2 separate regions of the Homo sapiens genome follow, and region 2 is linked to region 1. Evidence: fine-mapped expression QTL. A gene starts in region 1. The other region holds a variant in brackets. All regions are shown on one strand. Distances are between the middles of the regions.

Region 1 (2,928 bases):
ATTGGTTGATTTTTCTCTATTTCAGTAAAAGCTATAAATCTATCTTTCTATCTAGGAAAAGGATTGGGATTTAGGTAAAAGTGAAGAAAAGTGGAATAAAAACCACCATCAAACTGGGACTAGAAAATTACTTGAAAGTAAATTTACTGTTGCAAAGCACATCAGAAAATTTTTCAATAATCTGAGAAATATAAATATTGACATAAAGCTAAAATAATGCAAATCCAAGGCCTGAAGTTGATGAGACGCAAACCTGCATGTTTATTCAATTGATGGGGCTACAGAAAGGAAAGGCAAGAGAGTGAAGGAGGTAAAACACCAGGCTGCAATGGGTCCTTCGCCCACTAATTCCTTTGGTGCTGCTCCTGGTCCAGGTCAGCAACAGCCCCCTCCAGAGCAGCAGCCAGAACCCCCAGACTGCTGGCCACTGCCACTGCCATAGCAATTGGAGCTCTTGGGTCTGTGGCAGTGGGACCTATGGTGTCTGTGGTGGCTCAGGCAGCAGCCACCTCCCTCAGAGCTGCAGCAACCACAGCCCCCAGAGCTGGAGCCACAGCAGGAAGAGATTGGAGGTGGGCATGAGGATGCACACTTTGAGGGACATTTTGGGGGATACTTGGGGATAGGACACTTGGGAGGGGGCTGGCACTGCTGTTGGTTCTGCTGGCAGGACATCTTGGTGGGATTTCGATAAACCTGAATGACAAAATAGAAACATATACAGAAACTTAATATCAAGAGCCATTACATTTTTTTTTATTTTAAAATCCTCCCCCAAGGTGATGAAGAGGAATATCTAAAATATGGACATGTATAGAAACCTCTTTCAGACAAAGAGTATATCTTCATTACTTTTGTACCCCTAGAGCTTTCAAAAATTCTTAGTATTTGTTAGGTGGTTAATAAGTGACTTCTGAGCTAATAAAGCCAGCAAAATTTGAATGCCATCTCAAAGACATGTTAAATACATTGCAATTCTACCCACATGAATTTATCTAGAAATGGAATTCAGAAATTCGTAGAAAATCTGTTTAATAAATAATAATAAATTTGAGATCTGCACGGTTAGAGAAAAGCTTCCTTCAGAGCAATGGGCTTAGGACCAGCAGGCCAACCATTGGTAGGGATGTAGCAATCCCAGGTCATTCATCATCTTCCTGTCTGATCACAGGGATAATCCTTCCCAGGTTGGTTCCTGCTTTGTCCAGAGCCAACTACTACTTCTGGCCTTCTGGCCTTGTCCACCATGTCATCCTCCTCCTACTCCACGCTTCACTGTTCGACTTCCAGAATTACTCTCCATCTCCATCTTCATCCCGCTAGCGTCCCCCTCTGGATTCCTATAGAAACACTCACCGTGGGTTCAGACGCAGCAACAGATACGTCCCTTAGGAAGCAGAGCAGATGAGAAGCCAGCAGCAGGAACACACTTTGTATGGATCCTGGGGCTGGGCCTCGGATGAGCCATGCTAATGGCAGGAGCAGGACGTGGCTGTTGCACAAGTGTGGGGTCATGCCTGACATTCTCCTGCCTCCTGGTTTCATCTCTTCCTGAGCTGGATGATGAGCTTCCCAGATAGCCTCTTCGGCACTAGTGGGAGAGGGGGTGACTATATGAGACTTTCTGTAAATCAGACCCTTTTCCCAGGCTAAGGTCTCAATGTACAGCAAACAGAGGGGTTTAAGGCTATGGGTACTTACCTTTCAAGCCTCCCTCTGAACACGCTTTGCTCAGTCCCTCAGGAAGAACTTTGGCACCAAAGGCTCCAAGACTGCCCCACATTTAGCCCCTAACATATTCCAGCCAAATTTCAGCCAGAGGCTCTGGGCCTTTCCCAGGTCAGTCAATCCTGAGAGGCTGGTTTGGTGCCATAGGCCTCCTTACTCTTTTAGAGAGTATCTCCCATGCTTTTAGACCAGGCCAAGTCCCCAGTCCTAACTGTGGAGAGAGATGCCCCTCGGTCAGCCACTCTTCTCTTTAGAATTTCTCTTCTATGAACCCTTCAGCCTGGAATTCAAAGGCTATCATATTTGACTACTTCTATTTGGGTTACCAAGGAATGTGTCACCATCAAGGGGCCTTTTGAGTAGGAGTTTCTGAGTTTTTCTGTTGTGTGTTGTGTATGTGATTCTGCTGCATTTAAGTAGCTCATGAGCACAGATCAGAGACTTGAGACTTTTACCAATTCAGGAACCTTTTGTGGAAGTATCTGTCTGTCAACTACACACACACACACACACACAAGTTGCATTTATTGCAACCATTTTTTAAAAAAAGGACTGATTTTTTTTCTTCAACAAACATATAAGAAGATCATTATGAGGAAAATATTTTTCCCATCATAGAAAAAACTCTTCCCTTTTACCCATCAAAACACTCTAAACCAACAAGAAAAAGAAATTTGGTGTGTGTTGCTCTAATTCTCAAAAGGTTTATATAGGATACAACTCTTCATGCAACCCATTAAGATTGATTTATTTCTCCTTATGTATATCATATATGTTATACGTATATACACATATAATCACGAGGTACTTCTGGAAATACCTACTATGCAAAATAGATGTCTAACAATGACAAAAGTTAGCTGATATTAATGAACATGAAGACATTGATAATGATGACAAGGAAGATGACTAAACCCCCAGCCTATATTTCCTCTCTGTAAAGACAGAAATTACCTACTTTTATAGTAATTTCTGCTATTACTAACTCAGAAAATGAGTATTAGACAGCAGGAACGGAATTGTTGTGGAAGGCAGATTTTCTGGCAAGTATTATTGTAGGAATGTCCTCCCATTTTCCATCTCTCTCCCAATCCAGTGCCCCATGTTAATGGTGTTTCTGGCAAGCAAATCATCAGCTATAGAGGGATGTGGTAACAAGCAACAACCTACCACATTGAGCTCTTAATCTGTGACCAGCAC
Region 2 (2,928 bases), 73 kb after region 1:
CACCATGTTGCCAAGGCTAGACTCCAACTCCTGCGCTCAAGTGACCCCCTCACCTCCTCCTCCCAAAGTGCTGGGATTACAGGCATAAGCTACTGTGCCCTGCCAGGATGTTCTATTTCTGATTCTCCTCATTCATAGTTTATAGCCCTTCTGGCTCCAACCAAATCCTGGAGTGTTTACCAGAACCCCTCCTTCTTGACAGCCCTAAATCTAATTTTCGTCCTCCCTCCTCCCTGACCCCTATGAATTTTCTGACAGATATACTCATATTCTCAACTTCCAGCTACAGCTTTTCAGAATTGGCAAATGTATCAAGAGAAAAGTTGTGTTACATTCTAGGCTGTCTCTTGGCTTCTCTGCTTTTTAGAATTTGGTCCCAAAAATCTTCACTGAATTGATAGGTTGATGACATATTTAGACAGATATTTTATTTTGTCTTTTCTAGCTTTTACAGTTATTCTCTGTGGAAATTTTGTATAAAGTAACCTACTTTTCCATTTCCAAAAGCAGGTCTTCTCTTCTTTTACATCTAACGGTATATAAAATGTCCATGATTTCAATTGCTTGAATGTTTACATTCCACAAATGAGTGAAAACATGAGAAGCTTGTCTTTCTGTGCCTGGCTTATTTCACTTAACATAATGTCTTCCAGTTCCATCCATGTTGTTGCAAATGACAGGATCTCATTCTTTTTATGGCTGAATAATACTCCCTTGTATATATGTACCATATTTTCTTTATCCATTCATCTGTTGATGGACACTTAGGTTGCTTCCAAATTTTGGCTATTGTGATTAGTACTGCAATAAACATAAAAGCACCGATATCTCTTCGGCATGCTGATTTCATTTCCTTTGGAGAAATACCAAGCAGTGGGATTGCTGGATCATATGGTAGTTATATCTAGTTTTTTGAGGAGCCTCCATACTGTTCTCCATAGTGGCTGTACGAGTTTACATTCCCACCAGTAGTGTTCCCTTTTCTCCACATCCTCTCCAGCATTCATTATTGCCTGTCTTTTGGATAAAAGTCATTTTTACTGGGGTGAGATTATATCTCATTGCAGTTTTAATTTGCATTTCTCTAACAAGCGCCGATGAGTACCGTTTCATATGCCTGTTTGACATTTGTGTATCTGCTTTTGATAAATGTCTATTCATGTCTTTTGCCCAATTTTAAAAACGGGTTATTAGGCCAGGCATGGTGGCTCACTCCTGTAATCCTAGCACTTTGGGAGACAAAGGCAGGTGGACCATCTGAGGTCAGGAGTTTGAGACCAGCCTGGCCAATATGGCGAAACCCCATCTCTACTAAAAATACAAACATTAGCTGTGTGTGTTGGCTTGGGCCTGTAATCCCAGCTACTGGGGAGGCTGAGGCAGGAGAATCACTTGAACTGGGAGGCAGAGTTTGCAATGAGCTGAGATCATGCCACTGCACTCCAACCTGGGTGACAGAGCAAGACTCTATCCC[C/A]AAAATAGAAAATAAATAAATGAAATAAAATCAGATTATTAGACTTTTTCCCTATACAGTTTTTTGAGTTCCTTATATATTGTTGTTACTAATCTCTTGTCAGATGGATAGTTTGCAAATATATTCTCCCATTCTGTGGGTTGTCTCTTCACTTCATTGATTGTTCCTTTGCTGTGCAGAAGCTTTTTAATTTGATGTGATCCAATTTGTCCATTTTGCTTTTGTTGCCTGTGCTTTGGGATATTACTTAAGAAATCTTTGCCCAGATCAACATCCTAGAGAGTTTCCCCAATGTTTCCTTATAGTAGTTTCATATTTTGAGGTCTAAGTCCATCAAGTCTTAGTCCATTTTGATTTGATTTTTTATATGGCCATAGATAGGTTGAGTTTCATTCTTCTGCATATGGATATCCAGTTTTTGCAGCACCACTTATTGAAGAGACTGTCCTTTCCTCAATGTATATTCTTAGCACCTTAGTCAAAAATGAGTTTACTGGAGATATATGAATTTATTTCTGGATTTTCTATTTGATTCCATTGGTCTATATGTCTGTTTTTATGCCAATACCATACGGTTTTGGTTACTATAGCTCTGTAGTATAATTTGAAGTCAGGTAATATGATTCCTCTAGTTTTTTAATTTTTATCTTTTATTTTGGGTTCAGGGGTATATGTGCAGTTTTTTTATGTAGGTAAACTCATGCCATAGGGGTTTATTGTACAGATTATTTCATCACCATGGTACTAAGCCTAGCACCCAATAGTTACTTTTTCTGATCCTCTCCCTCCTCCCACCCTCCAACCTCAAGTAAGCCCCAGTGTCTGTTGTTCCCCTCCTTGTGTTCTCATCACTTAGCTCACACTTATAAGTGAGAATGTGTGATATTTGGTTTTCTGTTCCTGCATTAGTTTGCTAAGGATAATGGTCTCCAGCTTTGTTTATGTTCCTGCAAAAGACATAATCTCATTATTTCTTATAGCTGCATTGTATTCCATGGTGTATATGTACCACATTTTCTTTACCCAATCTGTCATTGATGGGCATTTAGGTTGAATCCATGTCTTTGCTATTATGAATAGTGCTGCAATGAACATATGTGTGCATGTATCTTTATGGTAGAACAATTTATATTCCTTTGGGTATATACCCAGTAATGGGATGGCTATGTTGAATGGTAGTTCTGTTTTTAGCTCTTTTAGGAATTACTGCACTGTTATCCGCAATGGTTAAACTAACTCACACTCCCATAACAGAGTATAAGCATTTTTTTTTCTCCACAACTTTGCCAGTATCTGTTATTTTTTGGCTTTTTAATAGTAGCCATTCTGACTGGTGTGAGATGACATCTCATTGTGGTTTTGATTTGTGTTTCTGTAATGGTCAATGATACTGAACTTTTTTTTAATATGATTGCTGGCTACATGTATGTAATTTTTTGAAAAGTGTCTGTTCA

Which allele goes with the higher level. Alleles are on the strand shown, and positions count from the first base shown. SD is a standard deviation of normalised expression in the study named.
For the expression in sun-exposed skin of the gene that starts at base 1,591 in region 1, allele C in region 2 goes with a higher level than allele A (small effect, 0.28 SD a copy in GTEx).

The links. PIP is the estimated chance that this variant, and not a neighbour inherited with it, causes the effect.
Region 2: its variant is the best candidate, but not a certain one, in a credible set for the expression of LCE4A in sun-exposed skin (GTEx, PIP 0.57).

Annotation. Positions count from the first base shown.
Region 1 is chr1:152,706,823-152,709,750 of GRCh38, reverse strand. LCE4A (late cornified envelope 4A) reads right to left here and starts at 1,591. Exons shown (of 2, transcript NM_001387222.1): 1 at 1,357-1,591; 2 at 317-696. The coding sequence starts at 675. The coding sequence ends at 376.
Region 2 is chr1:152,633,402-152,636,329 of GRCh38, reverse strand. No RefSeq gene overlaps it. Among named protein-coding and RNA genes, the nearest start is that of LCE3A, 12 kb to the right of the region's middle. The variant C/A (reference allele first, on the strand shown) is at 1,475.